Regions from separate parts of the Homo sapiens genome. Here region 2 is linked to region 1. The links come from fine-mapping of genetic effects on gene expression. A gene starts in region 1. The other region holds a variant in brackets. All regions are shown on one strand. Distances are between the middles of the regions.

Region 1 (8,328 bases):
GTCCATCTTGGCCCTCAGGAACCCCTCGTGCTCACTGATTTCCCCAGGCATGCCAAAGTAAATATCCACACCGTCTGTGGGCCTCGGGGTGGGAGTGACTGCAAGACCAGGGATCAGGAGGTCAGTCTGCAGCCCACCTCCAGGTCGCCTTTTCTACCTAGAGAACCACATTTCCTAGAGTGCACTGGAGACCATCATGCACCCAGTTTAGCCACCGCTGCTGCCTGGCATTATGGGAGATGTAGTTCTGGACTGGGCCTGTTCTTGCAAAGCTTAGGAATCCATTACACCATCTTCCAAGCTTTCCTGAAATGATCCTCAAGACCTACCCAATGGCCCCTCTACTCCCAAGTACCCCCAAACCACCCCCTCCCTTGGCAGGTTAGCCCTTCTACTTCTATTTTATCCAAAGATACTCTCGTCTTTTCTCCTCAGTTGGGCCTTTCCCCTATAGGCCCCTCCCAAAGACACCCCCCAGCAAGACTCCCCCAGATCTTTCTCCCTCTATGGTGGAGAGGCCCCAGGGGTTCAGAGACTGCCTCACCTTTGCCGACCACTGCAAGTGTATGGGAGCTTGGGGGTGGGACCGTTTCCTCTTCCTCTTCAGCCTGCGGAGGCTCCACGAAGTAATCATCTACTGGCTGTGGGAAGGATTCCTCCTCTTCCTCGTCCTCAGCCCCCTCTACTCTGCTCCCCGGGGGCCAGGACCGGGTGGAGGGGTCACTGAGGGAGCAGGAGAGGACCCAGGCAGTAAGAACCCAGGCCTGGGCTCCCAGGCTTCCATCCCCTGCCTCAGGAACCTTGAGATGGGCATGGAGGGTTCCCTCCCACTCACCCAACTGCTGTCCCAGATGGGTCGGGGGTCCCTGGAGGGGGACAGCACACATACTCCACACCACGGAACCGATCCGAGCCACAGGGTAAGAGCATGCCCGAGCCGTGCAGGATGAGGCCCTGGGAGCTGCAGGCCTGTAGGAAGAGTGGGCCCAGATGCCAGGATTGTGGGATGGGAGGGGGTAGATGGGGAACTGGGCTGCCAGGGTTGGGGGTTGATGAGGCTGGGAGCCTGGATTCCTGCTTCTAGAGGAAGGGGTTGGGGGATGAAATTCTTAGATCCCAAGTGCGAAGAGGATGCTGGTGGCCCAGACTCCTCGGTTCTGGTGGCGGAGGGTGTTAGAGGTCCCAGTTCCTGGGTTGTGGGGGCTGGGGACGGGTGGGCCAACGTCCTGACCTCCTGTGCCTCCTGATGCCTCCGGGTTGAACTCTCACATTGGTCCATGCGCTCCTGGTGCAAGAACCGGCAGCCTTCAGGCACCAGCAGGGCCTCACTCACAAATTCACCAGCTGGGGAAGCACGGGACACCAGGGTGAGATCCTCCTATAGCCACCAACCCCACCCTCCTCAGAATCCAGATATTTTATCCTCAGAGGCTTCTCTGCCCCACTTAGGACACAAGCACCCAGCCCCTTAATGTAGGCCTGAGAGAGGGGCTCAGAACCTTGCCCCTCAGAAACTCCCACCTCAGTTCCCCTCTCCCCGCCTGGGACTCACGCAGGCAGCGGAAGGGCACAACCTGGTGGTGGGGGTGGGCGCAGCTGCCGCTCCGGGAACCCCCGCACCAGCGCTCCATGGGGATGGCCTGCGTAGCCTGCTCCACACGTGCAATCTGCAGCTCCGGGTACATCTGGGGGGATCAGATGGGGGCAATCAGCCCACTGCCCCGCCCCTGCCAGCCACCCCTCTCCAGTAGTCAGGTCCCTTTTCTCTTTCTTTCTCCCTCTTTCTTTCTTTCTTTGAGACGGAGATTTGCTCTTGTCGCCCAGGCTGGAGTGGAATGGTACAATCTCGGCTCACTGCAACCTCCTCCTCCCAGGTTCAAGCGATTCTCCTGTCTCAGCCTCCTGAGTAGCTGGGATTACAGGCACGCACCACCATGCCAGGCTAATTTTTGTATTTTTAGTAGAGACGGAGTTTCGCCGTGTTGGCCAGGCTGGTCTCGAACTTCTGACCTCAGGTGATCCGCCTGCCTCGGCCTCCCCAAGTGCTGCGATTACAGGCGTGAGCCACCGCGCCCGGCCAGGTCCGTTTTCAAGGCTCTAGTATTCATGAGGACATCGCTTCCCTAGGCCCTGCTTCTCCCTAGCACCAGCCTTAGATATCCAAGCTCCTTGTGCTCATTGGCCACGCCCACTAGCAGTTTTCCCTTAAAAGTCCCGTCATCTTTAAGCCCTATCTCTTTTCCTGTGCTGTTTCTTTCTGAAGGTCCCTCTAAGCCCACCTCTCTGGTCACCCCTCCCCGCAGTCAGATTCGTCTCCCCAAAGGTCTCACCCTCCTTTAGGCCCCGCCTTTTCCTCTATTCCGCCTCTCCAAAACTCTCCCTTCCCGTTATAAATTTGTCTTTTCATGGCCACGCCCCCCCAGCTCTCCGCGCTCTCATTGGGCTCCACCCCTTTCCCCATCTTGCTGGTCCTTAAGGTCTCTTTCTGTCTTAGCCCCGCCTATCCTTTCGCCACTCCCCCCTACACCTCTACTCTTTACAAAGACCACCAGATTCCTAAATTCCACTTCCTCTCTGGCTATCTCGCGGCTCTCCCCTTTTCCTGACTTAGTATCTCAAAACAGGTCCCCTGCCCCTAGCATAGTTGCGCCTCTTTATTGGCCACGCCCCCCAGCCTCCACGCCTTAGATCGCGCAGCACCCTGGACCACGCCTTTTTCAAGTCTAGCTTTCTATGGGCGGCCCCGCCTCTCCCGTTCGGCCCCGCCCACCTGTCTGCAGTACTCCAGCACGCGCTGCGGGTCCCGGAGACAGCGTCGAGAGCGCTGTGGGTCTGGTTCCCAGCGGCCGGTGCGCAGGTCCCGGTGAAGGGTTAGGCGCCCGCATAGTCCAGCCACCTGGGCCGACCCCGGGGCCTGGATGGAAGTGGAAAGGACAGTGAGGGCTCGGGGGGCGTTGGCATGAGGGTCCCCTGGTTCTTTGCTCCCTAGGACCGAGACCCCCAGCACCAGCCCCCTCCCCCAAGCACCGCACACCGCCTCCATGGAGGCACCGTTCCCTGGGAAACAGCTCCCGTAGGGCGGGGGCGCCCCAGCGCTCCCGTTGCTATGGCGACCTGGGTCCCCCGGGATTCTTTCTGCCTTGTTGCCGCGGAGACAGACTCCGCCCCCACCCCAGCGCAGCCGCTCTGGAGCCCGAAGGGGTTAAACCTGAATCGCGGAGGAGGAGGCCAGAACCCAGGAGTTCTGGCCCCTCCTCCCTCCATCCCTTGCTCAGGCTCCCGTTGCAGGATGCAAAGCTGACAAGGCCTGGCTTCAGGGGCCTACAGTCCTGGACACCAGGTCCTTGAGGACTGGAGAGCTACATCTGGTTGGGGTGGGTGGTGACTGAAGGACTGGACTCCTGGGTCCTGGGAGGCTGCAAGGGCCTCCATATGGGTCCAGAGAATACAAGGGGTCTGGATTATTGGATCTAAATGCCTCGCTGCTTGGTGGGTCCTATGTCCAGGCGGGAGGGGGTTGGGGCCGAGTCACCTGGGTCTGGAGAGGGGGCTGGACTTCTGGGACCAGGGGCTCTGAATAGACCAGTTCCTATGCTCGAGATGGGAGGGGGCTGGGACGTCGCATGATGGGGGAGCTGGGGCCTGGAACCCTGGGTTCATAAATGTGATTGGGGGCGCCTGGGGGCTGACCACCTGGCTGGAAAGACCGCGCTTTCTGCCCTGGACATGTCCGCGCCGGCGTCCAGAGACCCGGTCCCGCCCCTTCCCCCATCCCCCAGGACCCGGCCCGGCCTCACCTCGGCCGCGCCGGGGCTCCCACCGGCCAGGCTCCCGATGGCGGGCTGCGCGCGCAGAAGCAGCAGCAATAGTGGCAGCAGCAGCGGCAGCGGCGGCTGGCCCGGGCGGCGACTTAGACCGCGAGCAGCGGGGCTGGCGGGCCCCATGTCCCGGCCCTTGCGCCCTCACGTCCCCTGCACTCCCGCCCGGCCCGGCCCCAGCGGTGACAGGAGCTCCCAGCGCCACCGCCGCCACCTCCTCCTCCCGCCGCCCCCGGGCTGCGCCGGCGCCGCCAGCCCCGCCCCGCGCCGGCCCCGCCTTCCTGGTCAGGACAATAGCGTGGCGGCTTCGCGCAGAGTGGAGCAGCTCGGGAACCCCGGGCGGGAGCCTGCGCCAGGCCCCCGCCCCTCGAGATTCCAGGCGTCCCGCCCCATGAAGGGCCCAGCCAGGAGTCCGGCTATGGGCTCCGCCCGTTGTGGATTTTGAGTCCTCCCGCAGGACTCTCACCCTCTTTAGACCCAGACACTCACAGTTTTGTCCTTTTCCAAGGATGCAAGCATCAGAGACCCCCATCCCCTAGTACATTCCTCTGTTGAGGGCTCAGGAATACAGGCCTCCAAAATGTCCCCAGTCAAGAAGGCAGCAGTTGAGACCTAGTCCCTTCCTCTTTCAGATCCAGAAGTCTGGGCACCTTCTCTCTCAGGACCAGAGACCAAGCCCCCAGCCCATTCTCCTTCAGACCCAGGAGTTCACTCTTCTTGCTCTGCTTCCCAAGGGTCCCAGGGGCCTGGACCTTTAACTCCTAGCTCAAGGATCCATGAACCAAAGCCCCCAGGACCTTTCTTTAAGGATCATCCAAGCAGGCACCAGCACCATGCCCACTGTGGATGCAGCACCTCAGGATTAGGGTCTGGATCTCCACGCTTGCTGTAAGGACCAGGGGATTGCCATTTTCCTACCCATAGTCTCCCCTTCCCTGCTCCACTTCAGGGCTCACTTGTTTGTCTCCTCTAATGAGAGTTAGAATTCAGTCTTCCCCAGGACCCCTGGGGCAGCCCTGTCACTTGTGTGCAACTGTGTGGACATCTATGCGTGTGTCTGTGCATACATGCCTATGTGTGTGTCTTTTCTGTTTGCAACTCATGTGTGTGTGTGCGTGTGTGTGTGTGTGTGTGTGTGTGTGAAGATGTATATTAAAAGAGCCCATGGCTGGGCACAGTGGCTCATGCCTGTAATCCCAGCACATTGGGAGGCCTAGGTGGGCGGATCACTTGAGGTCAGGAGTTTGAGACCAGCCTGGCCAACATGGTGAAACCCTGTCTACAAACAAATACAAAAATTAGCTGGGTGTGGTGGCATGCACCTGTAGTCCCAGCTACTTGGGAGGCTGAGGTGGAAGGATGGCTTGAGCCCAGGATGCAGAGGTAGCAGTGGGCTGAGATCATGCCACTGCACTCCAATGTGGGCCATAGAGCCAGATCTTGTCTCAAGAAAAAAAAAAAAAGAGCCTAGAGTGCTTTGCAGGTAGCAAGAGGCTGAGAGGTGGCTCACAGTTTTACTCCTACAGCCACCTCATAGGCTAGGGTAGAGGAGGGACCTTGGGACAGGTCTAAGGGACCCCTTCCTTGGTGGAGAGTGATAATGCCAGTAGACTCCCTAAGACACACTTGCCTCTTTGACTTTTTTTTATTATTAAACATAAATATTTTTATCCCAATATTTTGCCCCAACAGTGGTAATTCTCACTGTATCCCCACTCCTTGGGTCCAAGTCTTTCTGAGTCTTTAAGGAAAGTAAAATCAAGATGGTGGCCATCTTGGGTTCCTAGGGAGTATATGGCCATCTTGGCTGCATTTCCATTGGCCGAGCAAAGTTCCCCTCAGGGAGAGCCAGGGTGGGGCCTGGTATGCTCTTCATCTTCATCTATCCTATGCTACCTTTCCTCTCAATGCAGATGGTCATCTTGAAATATCTTCTTTCAGTGGCTAGAAACAACTTCCATCCCGGCCCCAAACTCCCAACACCCACTGCCCTGTCCCCATCTCTCCTCAAAGGGCCTACCTGCCATCTTGAATCTCTTTTACACCGGGGAATAGGTGGGCATATTGGGTGGCCATGTTGCTCCCACTTGGGGCATCTCCTTTGGCTGAGCTGACTGTATACAAATGCTCCTGACAAATGTAATGATCTTTCCCTCCCCTTGTGTTCAGTTTTGGAGGAGTAAGGTCGCCAACTTGTCCTGGCTCCTCAGAAATCAGAACAATCCATTATGGCAAGTTGGAGATCCCAGGACTCTTCCATTGGAAAGATGTCACACGTGAGTCTGGAGACGCGGGTGGCTAGGTGTGGGGAAGGCAGCATATGGGAAGGGGGGAGTCCCGGGGGCCAGATCTGGGGGCCCAAAGGATGTGGGTTTGATGTAGCTGGTGAAAGCTCGAGGGTGGGGTGTGGTGAGATAGCCTGCCCTGGCTCTGTAAAGTCTGCAGGGGGGGACCATGCCCAGGTGTGGGTTGAAGTCATAGAAGGTAGGGGTCCCTGGGGGCCCAAGGGGGGAGGGTGGTGGCAGGAAGAGACCTCCTCCAGGGGCTTCGCCAAGGCTCAGGCTCACACTGACTCCTCGGACCTTGTAGTAACCGTTGGTTGGGTCCTGAGGGGACAAATGGGACTCAGTAAAGTCTGTGAGCGTGCAGGGGGGATGAGGGTCACTGATGGAGAGACACACTGAAATAGACCAGACCTTGAGAGAGACAAAAAGAGACAGGAGTGGGCAGAGACACAGAGACACACATGGACTGGGAGAGAGAGAAAGTGAGACAGAGGAACAGTGATAAGAGGCAAATGGATAGGACATAGGCAGAGAAAGGTAGAGACGGAGGGATATAGGCCTGCTGAGGGGTGTCGGTGTGGAAGGTGCAGAGGGAACAGGAGAGAGACACTCACCTGCCCAACAGCCTCTAGGCTTTGATTCAGTGTCACACCCTGTGTTGCTGCTACAAGGCATGTCACTAGGATAGAACTGGACCCTGTCCTCACAGAATCCCACACCAAAGGAAAAATGACAGATCATGAGACAGTACCCAGAGGGGTCAGGGCTGTGCCTGGGAAAGGCATAGGCAATGACAGGGGCTGTGATGGTAGAGCCCTCAGCATAGTGGGTGGGATAAGGAAGCCCAGATCAGAGTGGTCATGGCTGTGATGGGTGGAACACAGGCAAAATGATCGAGCTGTCATGACGGAAGCATGGGCTTCCTAGAACAAGAAATGTCTGAGCTGAGACTGGAGGACTAAAGGAAGGAATTAGGTAGACATGGGAAGGAAGGTAGGAGTGTTTCAGGCCAAGAGAATGGCATGTCGGCTGGGCACAGTGGCTCACGCCTGTAATCCCAGCACTTTGGGAGGCTGGGGCGAGCGGATCACTTGAGGTCAGGAGTTCCAGATCAGCCTGGCCAACATGGTGAAACTCCATCTCTACTAAAAATACAAGAAAAATTAGCCAGCTATTAGGGAGCCTGAGGCAGGAGAATGGCTTGAACCCAGGAGGCAGAGGTTGCAGTGAGCTGAGATTGCACCACTGCACTCCAGCCTGGGCAACAGAATGAGACTCCGTCTCAAAAAAAAAAAAAAAAAAAAGAAGAGAGAGAATGGCATGTGCTAGGTACGCAGGAGAGAGAGAGAGAGAGAAGTGCTCTGGCCTGGGGATGGCCTGGAGTCAATGTGGCTGTCCTGAGGTAGGACCCCAGAGGAAGAACCAGTCTGGGGAGATGTGGGGCCAGTGTAGGACCTGGTGGCTGAAAGGGGGCTTGACCGTGATGAGGAGAGCACAGGCAGGGTGAGCCCTGGTCTGGGGCTCCAGATGGAGGCTAGGGCTGGGACAGATGTGTGGGAAGAGTCTGCAGACAGGCAAACTGAGGCTGGGAGCTGAGTGAGATGGCCCAGGGGGCAGGAGGAGTGGGGTGGGGAGCTGAGTCCCAACTCTGAGGACAACAGAAGGAAAAAGGAGGGGACAGGCGTGGGAGAGAGACGGAAACACAATGAAGGGAGCCCCGCCTCTCCCAACAGTGAAGGGAGCCCCACCCCTCTCAACACTCACCTTGGTCTCCAGAGTCCCTTCCTCCTCCAGAACCAGATCACTGTGGTCAGTGTGCACAATGGGGCCCTGGGGTAGGGAACTTAGTGAGAGGGAATAGTCAGAGGATCCCCCCGCCCCAATGCCAGACCCCAAGGACCTTCAGCCAGCCAGTGGAGGCCAGGCAGGAGGGAGTAAGAGCACCCAAGAGCTGGGGACTGCACTCAGGACAATAAAAGGGCTGTAAGAAGCCAGCACAGTGGCTCATGCATGTAATCCCAGCACTTTGGGAGGCCGCAGCAGGAGTATCACTTGAGGCCAGAAGTTTGAGACCAGCCTGGCTAACATGCCGAAACTCTGTCTCTACTAAAAATGCAAAAAATAGGCAGGCATGGTGGCAGGCACCTGTAATTTCAGCTACTCAGGAGGCTAAGGAACGAGAATCACTTGAACTGGGAGGTGGAGGGTGCAGTGAGTCTGGATTG
Region 2 (8,328 bases), 570 kb before region 1:
TTGTTTCTATCCAGGAATAAAACCAGTTATGCCAGAAGTAACTATTATTCACCTTTCTCCTACTGAATTAAAATACTATCAGTTGTATATTAAATGCTCACATCTATTTCTGTTCTCCATATTCTAGCAATCCTTGACACTTTTCAATAGCTTTTATTACTTGGAAATAAAGATGTATGTATATATTATTAATATATAGTTTATTATTTGGAAATAAAGATGTTTCTTCATGAGAATTTTTGACTCATTTATTTTCCAATGAAAACCCCATTAGGATTATATTTTGAATTTCATTCAGTTTAAATGCAGAGTATCCTACATGAATAAACAATTGACACTGAATGGAATTCATTAACACATCTTGAGGTTTCTTTTATAACTCTTCATCCTCTTGACTCTCTAATATCTAATAATAACACCATCTACTGTGATGTCTCACAATACTTAAAATATGCTAGTAATACCTGAAAATTTATTAGAGTTCTGCTTATAAGGTGATAGATTCTTTTGGGCTCTATAGTTATATAATCTGCAGATAAAGGTGACATACCTATCTCACAATATTTTTTATATCTATTTTATTTTATTTTATTTGAGACGGAGTCTCCCTCTGTCGCCAGGCCGGAGTGCCGTGGCGCGATCTTGGCTCACTGCAACCTCTGCCTCCTGGGTTCAAGTGATTCTCCTGCCTCAGCCTCCTGAGTAGCTGGGACTACAGGTGCACACCACCACGCCCAGCTAATTTTTGTATTTTTAGTAGAGACAGGGTTTCACCATGTTGGCCAGGATGGTCTCGATCTCTTGAACTTGTGATCCGCCCGCCTTGGCCTCCCAAAGTGCTGGGATTATAGGCATGAGCCACTGCGCCTGGGCCATCTTATTTTCTTATTGCATATGCAGACCACAGACCTGGTGAGAGTGGGTATTGGGCAGCACTTTTTTTTTTTAACCATATTTTACTCATTTTTTACAGAACAGCCAGTTTTTGAGATTTTGTTTTCTTCTTCCTATTTTTAGCCCTACTCTTGTTTGTGTGTTATAAGAGAAATGACTTATTGCCTTGGTGAAATGTGTTAAAACTGTGTATATTACCTCCCTTCATTGGACCCTTAATTTCTCCATGGTCTCTAGTACAGGCTATGATTTTCTATTCCTACTTTATAGAAAATAGATTTTCTATTCCTATTTCCATCCCATTTTCATTCAACTGAAAATGTGATGGGCAATATCTATACTTTATATCTGTGAGGATTCTGTGTAGACATTCTGTCATCTTACTTTTAAGTGTAAACTACAGAAATAAACCACAGGTTCAATGCAATCCCTATAAAAATACCAATGACATTATTCACAGAAATAGAAAAAATAGCCCTAAAATAGCCACAAAAGACCCAGAATATCCAAAGCCATCCTAAGCAAAAAGAACAAAACTGGAGAAATCACATTACCTGACTTCAAATTATACTGCTGAGCTATAGTAACCAAAACTGCATGGTACTGGCATAAAAACAGACACATCAACCGATGGAACAGAATAGAGAACCTGGAAATACATCCGTACATCTACAGTGAACTCATTTTCAACAAAGGTGCCAAGAACATACATTGGGGAAACGATAGTCTCTTCAGTAGATGGTGCTGGGAGAACAATATCCACATGCAGACTGAAACTAAACCCCTACATCTCACCATATACAAAAATCAAATCAAAATGAGGCCAGGCATTGTGGCTCATGCCTATAATCCCAGCACTTTGGGAGGCAGAGGCAGGTGGATCAGCTGAAGTCTGGAGTTTGAGACCAGCCTGGCCAACATGGAGAAACCCCGTCTCTACTAAAATACAAAAATTAGCTGGGTGTGGTGGCATGTGCCTGTAATCCCAGAAACTCTGGAAGCTGAGGCGGGAGGATCGCTTGAACTTGGAAGACAGAGGCTGCAGTGAGCCAAGATCATGCCACTGCACTCCAGCTTGGGCAACAGAGCAAGACTGTCTCAAAAAAAAAACAAAACAAAACGGCGGGGCACGGTGGCTCACGCCTGTAATCCCAGCACTTTGGGAGGTCGAGGCGGGTGGATCACGAGTTCAAGAGATCGAGACCATCCTGGCCAACATGGTGAAACCCCATCTCTACTAAAAATACAAAAATTAGCTGGGCATGGTGGCACGCGCCTGTAGTCCCAGCTACTTTGGAGGCTAAGGCAGGAGAATCACTTGAACCCAGGAGGTGGAGGTTGCAGTAAGCCGAGATCACACCACTGCACTCCAGCCTGGCGACAGAGCAAGACTCCGTCTCAAAAAATAAAATATGAAAAACATTAGCCAGGCATGGCGGTGCGAGCCTGTAATCCCAGCAACTTGGAGGCTGAGGCAGGAGAATCACTTGAACCTGGGAGGCGGAAGTTGCAGTGAGCCAAGATCGCGCCATTGCATTCCAGCCAGGGAAGAAAAAAAAAAAAGATTAAAGACCAGGATATTGGTCTGGACAAAGATTTCTTGAGTAATAAATACCCCAACATCCCAGGTAATGAAAGCAGAAATGGATAAATGGGATCACATCAAGTTAAAAAGCTTCTGGAGCACAGCAAAGGAAACAATCAACAAAGTGAAGGGACAACCCACAGCATGGGAAAAAAATTTGCAAACTATCCATCTGACAAGGGATTAATAATATACAAGGAGCTCAAACAACAGGAAGAAAATCTAATCTGATTTTTTAAATGGGCAAAAGATCTGAATAGACATTTCTCAAAAGAAGACATACAAATGGCCAACAGATATGTGAAAAGGTGCTCAACATCACTGATCCTCAGAGAAATGCAAATCAAAACTACAATGAGATATCATCTCACCCCAGTTAAAAAGGGGTTTTAGGAAGCTGGGCCCAGTGGCTTATGCCTGTAATCCCAGCACTTTGGGAGGCCGAGGCAGGTGGATCACCTGAGGTCAGGAGTTCGAGACCAGCCTGACCAACATGGAGAAACCCCAATCTCTACTAAAAATACAAAATTAGCCGGGTGTGGTGGCGGGTGCCTGTAATCCCAGCTACTCGGGAGGCTGAGGCAGTAGAATTGCTTGAACCCAGGAGGTGGAGGTTGCAGTGAGCCGAAATCGCACCATTGCACTCCAGCCCAGGCAACAAGAGTGAAACTCTGTCCCAAAAATAATAATAATAATAAAATAAAAATAAAATGGCTTTTATCCAAAGGACATGCAATAACAAGTGCTGGTGAGGATGTGGAGAAAAGAGAACCCTCATATGCTGTTGGTGGGAATGTAAAGTAGTACAGCTACTATGGAGAAAAGTATGGAGTTTCCTCAAGAAAATAAAAACAGAGCTACCACTTTGGGAGGCTGAGGCGGGTGGATCACGAGGTCAGGAGATCGAGACCATCCTGGCTAACATGGTGAAACCCTGTCTCTACTAAAAATACAAAAAAAAAATTAGCC[G/A]GGCATGGTGACAGGTGCCTATAGACCCAGCTACTCAGGAGGCTAGGCAGGAGAATGGCGTGAACCCGGGAGGCGGAGCTTGAGTGAGGGGAGATCGCACAACTGCACTCCAGCCTGGATGACTGAGCAAGACTCCGTCTCAAAAAAAAAAAAAAAAAAAAAAAAAATAGAGCTACCATATGATCCAGCAATCCTGCCACTAGATATATACCCAAAAGAAAGGAAATTCATATATTGAAGAGATATCTGCACTCCCATGTTTATTGCAGCACTGTTGATAATAGCCAAGATTTGGAAGCAACCTAAATGTCCATCAATCAATGAATGGATAAAGACAATGTGGTATACATACACAATGGAGTACTATTCAGCCATAAAAAGAATGAGATACTGCTATTTGCAACAACATGCATGGAACTAGAGGGCATTATGTTAAGTGAAATAAGCCAGGCACAGAATGACAAACTTCACGTGTTCTCACTCATTTGTGGGAGCTAAAAATTAAAAATTGAACTCATGGAGATAGAGAGTAGAATGATGGTCACCAGAGGCTGGGAAAGATAGTGGGCAGGGGAAGGGGATAGTAGGGATAGTTAGTGGGGACAAAAATATAGTTAGATAGTATGAATAAGATATAGTATTTGACAGCACACCAGGGTAACTACAGTCAACAATAATTTATTGTATATTTAAAAATAACAGAGTAGAACTGAAATGTTTGTAACACAAATAAGTGATAAATACTTGAGGTGATGGATATCCCATTTCCCCTGACGTGATTATTCCACATTGTATGCCTTTATCAAAACATCTCATGTACCCCATACATATAAGCATGTGAAAAGCTACATAAAGGAAAAAGGGGAGTAAAAAAGAAGTAATCAGTAATAATATATAACTGTATGTTAATCAGATAGATGCTCCAGTCTTTTTTTCTATAAATCATAGTTGTGACTCATTCCCTTTTACTTAGCAAATTGGGAGGGTTTGTTGTTGTTGTTTTGAGACGGAGTCTTGCTCTGTTGCCCAGGCTGGAATGTGATGGCTCAATCTCGGCTCGATGCAACCTCTGCCTCCCGGGTTCAAGCAATTCTCCTGCCTCAGCCTCCCTAGTAGCTGGGATTACAGGGACCCGCCACCACGCCTGGCTAATTGTATTTTTAGTAGAGATGGGGTTTCACCATGTAGGCCAGGCTGGTCTCAAACTGCTGACCTCTTGATCTGCCTGCCTCAGCCTTTCAAAGCGCTGGGATTACAGGCATGAGCCACCTTGCCTGGCCCGCCTTTCTTTTCTTCCCTCCCTCTGTCCCTCCCCCCCTTTTCTTTCTTTCTTTCTCTCTCTTTCTTTCTTTCTTTCTTTCTTTCTTTCTTTCTTTCTTTCTTTCTTTCTTTCTCTCTCTCTCTCTTTCTTTCTTTCTTTCTTTCTTTCATTCTTTCTCTCTCTCTCTCTCTCTCTTTCTTTCTTTCTTTCTTCTCTCTCTCTTTCTTTCGTTTTTCAGACAGGGTTGTAGCTCTGTTGCCCAGGCTGGAGTGCAGGGGCACGATCATGGGTCACTGCAGTCTTGATGTCCTGGGCTCAAGCCATCTTCCTACCTCAGTCTCTGCCAAGTGACTGGGACTACAGGCATGTGCTGCAATGTCCAGTTAATTTTTTTTAGCACCAGTGTGTCACTATGTTTCCCAGGCTCGTCTTGAACTCCTGGGCTTGTGATCTTCTTGCCTTGGCCTCCCAAAAGCTGGGACCACAGGCATGAGCCAGCCACCACACCCAGCTGTGATTGGAAGTTTTTAAAGTGACTCGAATCTTCTTTCATAGGATCCGAATTATTATTAGTTACTATAGTTTTCTATTAACTTTTTCTATTGTAAAAGACAGAGGTAGGAGTTGACCCAGGGGAATCTTTGCATTCTATCCATGTTACATTTAGAAGGTTCAAACCTATTTCCCCCTTGAGAGCCAGGATCAATCAGCCCAGCAAACACCAACCTACTCTCCCTTACCTCTCCCACCCCAACCTTTCATCTGTTGCCCATGGTCACAAGGAGCACCAAATAGCTGCATTATGTTCTCACTTTCCATTTTTTTGTAACCACTGTTGTGTCTCTGGTGAAGGTGCTCTTTCATCTATTCTCCATATTATTTTTAGATAAAGTTTCAAAATCTGGCAATATTTTTGATATGTGGGTTTGATTTTATAATTGGTCATTGAGAGAATGCTGAGGTTTTTATTACATTTTATGGTCTGGATATTACAAGGGGAGCAAGAAAAACAGTAACACCCTTGCAAGGTAACTACCTCAGACAAGATCATTATAGGATTTTGAAGCAAGATATGTCTCACAATGCATTTTGTCTTAAAGTTTCTGTTATTGGGCCGGGCGCGGTGGCTCACACCTATAATCCCAGCACTTTAGGAGGCCAAGGCGGGCAGATCAGCCTGACCAACATGAAGAAACCCCGTCTCTACTAAAAATACAAAATTACCCGGTCGTGGTGGTGCATGCCTGTAATCCCAGCTACTTGGGAGGCTGAGGCAGGAGAATCGCTTGAACCCGGGAGGCGGAGGTTGTGGTGAGCCGAGATTGCGCCATTGCACTCCAGCCTGGGCGACAAGAGTTAAACTCCGTCTCAAACAACAAAAAAAAGTTTCTGTTATTTTAAGTAGTATAGTTACATGAACTTGCTTGTTTATTGTTAGTTTTTCCATCTTTAATTTCTTTTTCTTTTTCTTTCTTTTTTTGAGACAATGTCTCACTTTGTCACCCAGGCTAGAGCGCAGTGGTGCAATCTCAGCTCACTGCAGCCTCCGCCTCCCACGTTCAGGCAATTCTCGTGCCTCAGCCTCCTGAGTAGCTGAGGTTACAGGCGCACACCACCATGCCCGTCTAATGTTTGTATTTTTTTTTTTTTTTTTTAGTAGAGACGGGGTTTCACCATGTTGGCCAGGCTGGTCTCAAACTCCTGACCTCAAGTGATCCGCCTGCCTCGGCCTCCCAAAGTGCTGGGATTACAGGCATGAGCCGCTGTGCCTGGCCTCCATCTTTAATTTCAATGTTTCTGCATTCTTAAGGTAAAGATGGCTTTTGAGAATACAATATGCCTGAATTTTTTTTTTTTTTTTTTTTTTTTTGAGACGGAGTCTTGCTCTGTGGCCCAGGCTGGAGTGCAGTGGCGCGATCTCGGCTCACTGCAAACTCTGCCTCCCGGGTTCGGTTCATGCCATTCTCCTGCCTCAGCCTCCCGAGTAGCTGGGATTACAGGCGCCCGCCACCATGCCCGGCTAATTTTTTTGTATTTTTAGTAGAGATGGGGTTTCACCGTGTTAGCCAGGATGGTCTCGATCTCCTAACCTCATGATCCGCCTGCCTCGGCCTCCCAAAGTGCTGGGATAACAGGCGTGAGCCACCGCGCCCGGACTATACTTGAACTTTTAAAATTCCAGTCTGACAACCTTTGTCTTTTTTTTTTTTTTTTTTTTGAGACGGAGTCTCGCTCTGTTGCCAGGTTGGAGTGCAGTGGCGCAGTCTCGGCTCACTGCAACATCTGCTTCCTGGGTTCAAGCGATTCTCCTGCCTCAGCCTCCCAAGTAGCTGGGATTACAGGCACGCGCCGCCATGCCCAGCTAATTTTTGTATTTTTAGTAGAGATGGGGTTTCGCCATGTTGGCGAGGCTGGTCTTGAATTCCTGACCTTGTGATCCACCCGCCTTGGCCTCCCAAAGTGCTTGCATTACAGGCGTGAGCCACCGCGCCCGGCCCCACCTTTGTCTTTTAAGTAAAGTATTATATTCACTTTTATTCGATGTGATTACTAATATATTTGGTTTTAAATCTATCTTTGTTCTTTTGTTTATCTTGTCAATTATATATACATATATATATATATTTTTCCTCCTTGTTTTCTTCAGGAGCTTTAATAATCATGTCGTTGTTTATGGTTACTAGCTTGGAAATTCTATATATTATTTCTATGCTTTAAGAATTACCTTAGAAAATACCATGCATAACAAAATCCATCAAAGTCTAAAACAGTTATGTCAAAAGCACAACACAGTGATTACAGTCGACAATAATTTATTGTGCATTTAAAAATAAAAGGGTATAATTGGGATGTTTATAACATAAACAGCAAATGCTTGATGTGACAGATACTCCATTTACCCTGGTGATTATTATGCGTTGCATACCTGTATCAGAATATCTCATGCACCCCATAAATGTGTACACCTACTAGGTACCCATAAAAATTAAAACTTAAAATAAAAAAGTTGTGTCAACGTAAAAAGACATAGAGACGAATCGCTAAGTAAAAGGTTTTATTTGGGAATAATATACAAGAAGTAGAACTGCAATTCAGGACATACATAGACGCGTGGTGTCTGGTATGTCTAGAGAACAAATGAAAAGTTTAGAGTTTATTGGGTAAAGAGGAGGTTATGTGAGTTGTTTTTAAATCAAATTTACTTGGCTGGGCACAGTGCCTCATGCCTATAATCTCCTAGCACTTTGGAAGGTTGAGGCGGGTGGATGCTTTGAGCCCAGGAGTTTGAGACCAGCCTGGGCAACTTGGTGGAATCCTGTCTCTTCTAAAAATACAAAAATTGGGCCGGGCTTGGCGACTCACGCCTGTAATCCCAGCACTTTAGGAGGCTGAGGCAGGTGGATCGCAAGGTCAGGAGTTTGAGACCAGCCTGGTCAATATGGTGAAAGCCCCTCTCTACTAAAAATACAAACATTAGCCAGGCATGGTGGCGAGTGCCTGTAGTCCCAGCTACTTGAGAGGCTGAGGCAGGAGAATCGCTTGAACCCGGAAGGCGGAGGTTGCAGTGTGTTGCACTCCAGCCTGGGTGACAGAGCAAGACTCCATCTCAAAAAATAAT

The links.
Region 2: its variant is fine-mapped to the expression of APLP1 in breast (GTEx, PIP above 0.99).

What each region holds. Positions count from the first base shown.
Region 1 is chr19:35,864,253-35,872,580 of GRCh38, reverse strand. APLP1 (amyloid beta precursor like protein 1) reads right to left here and starts at 4,007. Exons shown (of 17, transcript NM_001024807.3): 1 at 3,798-4,007; 2 at 2,771-2,914; 3 at 1,553-1,685; 4 at 1,232-1,344; 5 at 836-969; 6 at 545-723; 7 at 1-98. The coding sequence starts at 3,944. KIRREL2 (kirre like nephrin family adhesion molecule 2) reads right to left here. Exons shown (of 15, transcript NM_199180.4): 14 at 7,868-7,933; 15 at 5,445-6,424. The coding sequence ends at 6,089. LOC107985317 (a long non-coding RNA gene) reads left to right here and starts at 3,224. Exons shown (of 4, transcript XR_001753932.2): 1 at 3,224-3,489; 2 at 4,451-4,706; 3 at 5,988-6,094. RefSeq lists silencers at 3,767-3,836, 3,927-4,186.
Region 2 is chr19:36,437,027-36,445,354 of GRCh38, reverse strand. ZNF566 (zinc finger protein 566) reads left to right here. Exons shown (of 5, transcript NM_001145344.1): 5 at 1-236. Among named protein-coding and RNA genes, the nearest start is that of ZFP82, 23 kb to the right of the region's middle. The variant G/A (reference allele first, on the strand shown) is at 3,449.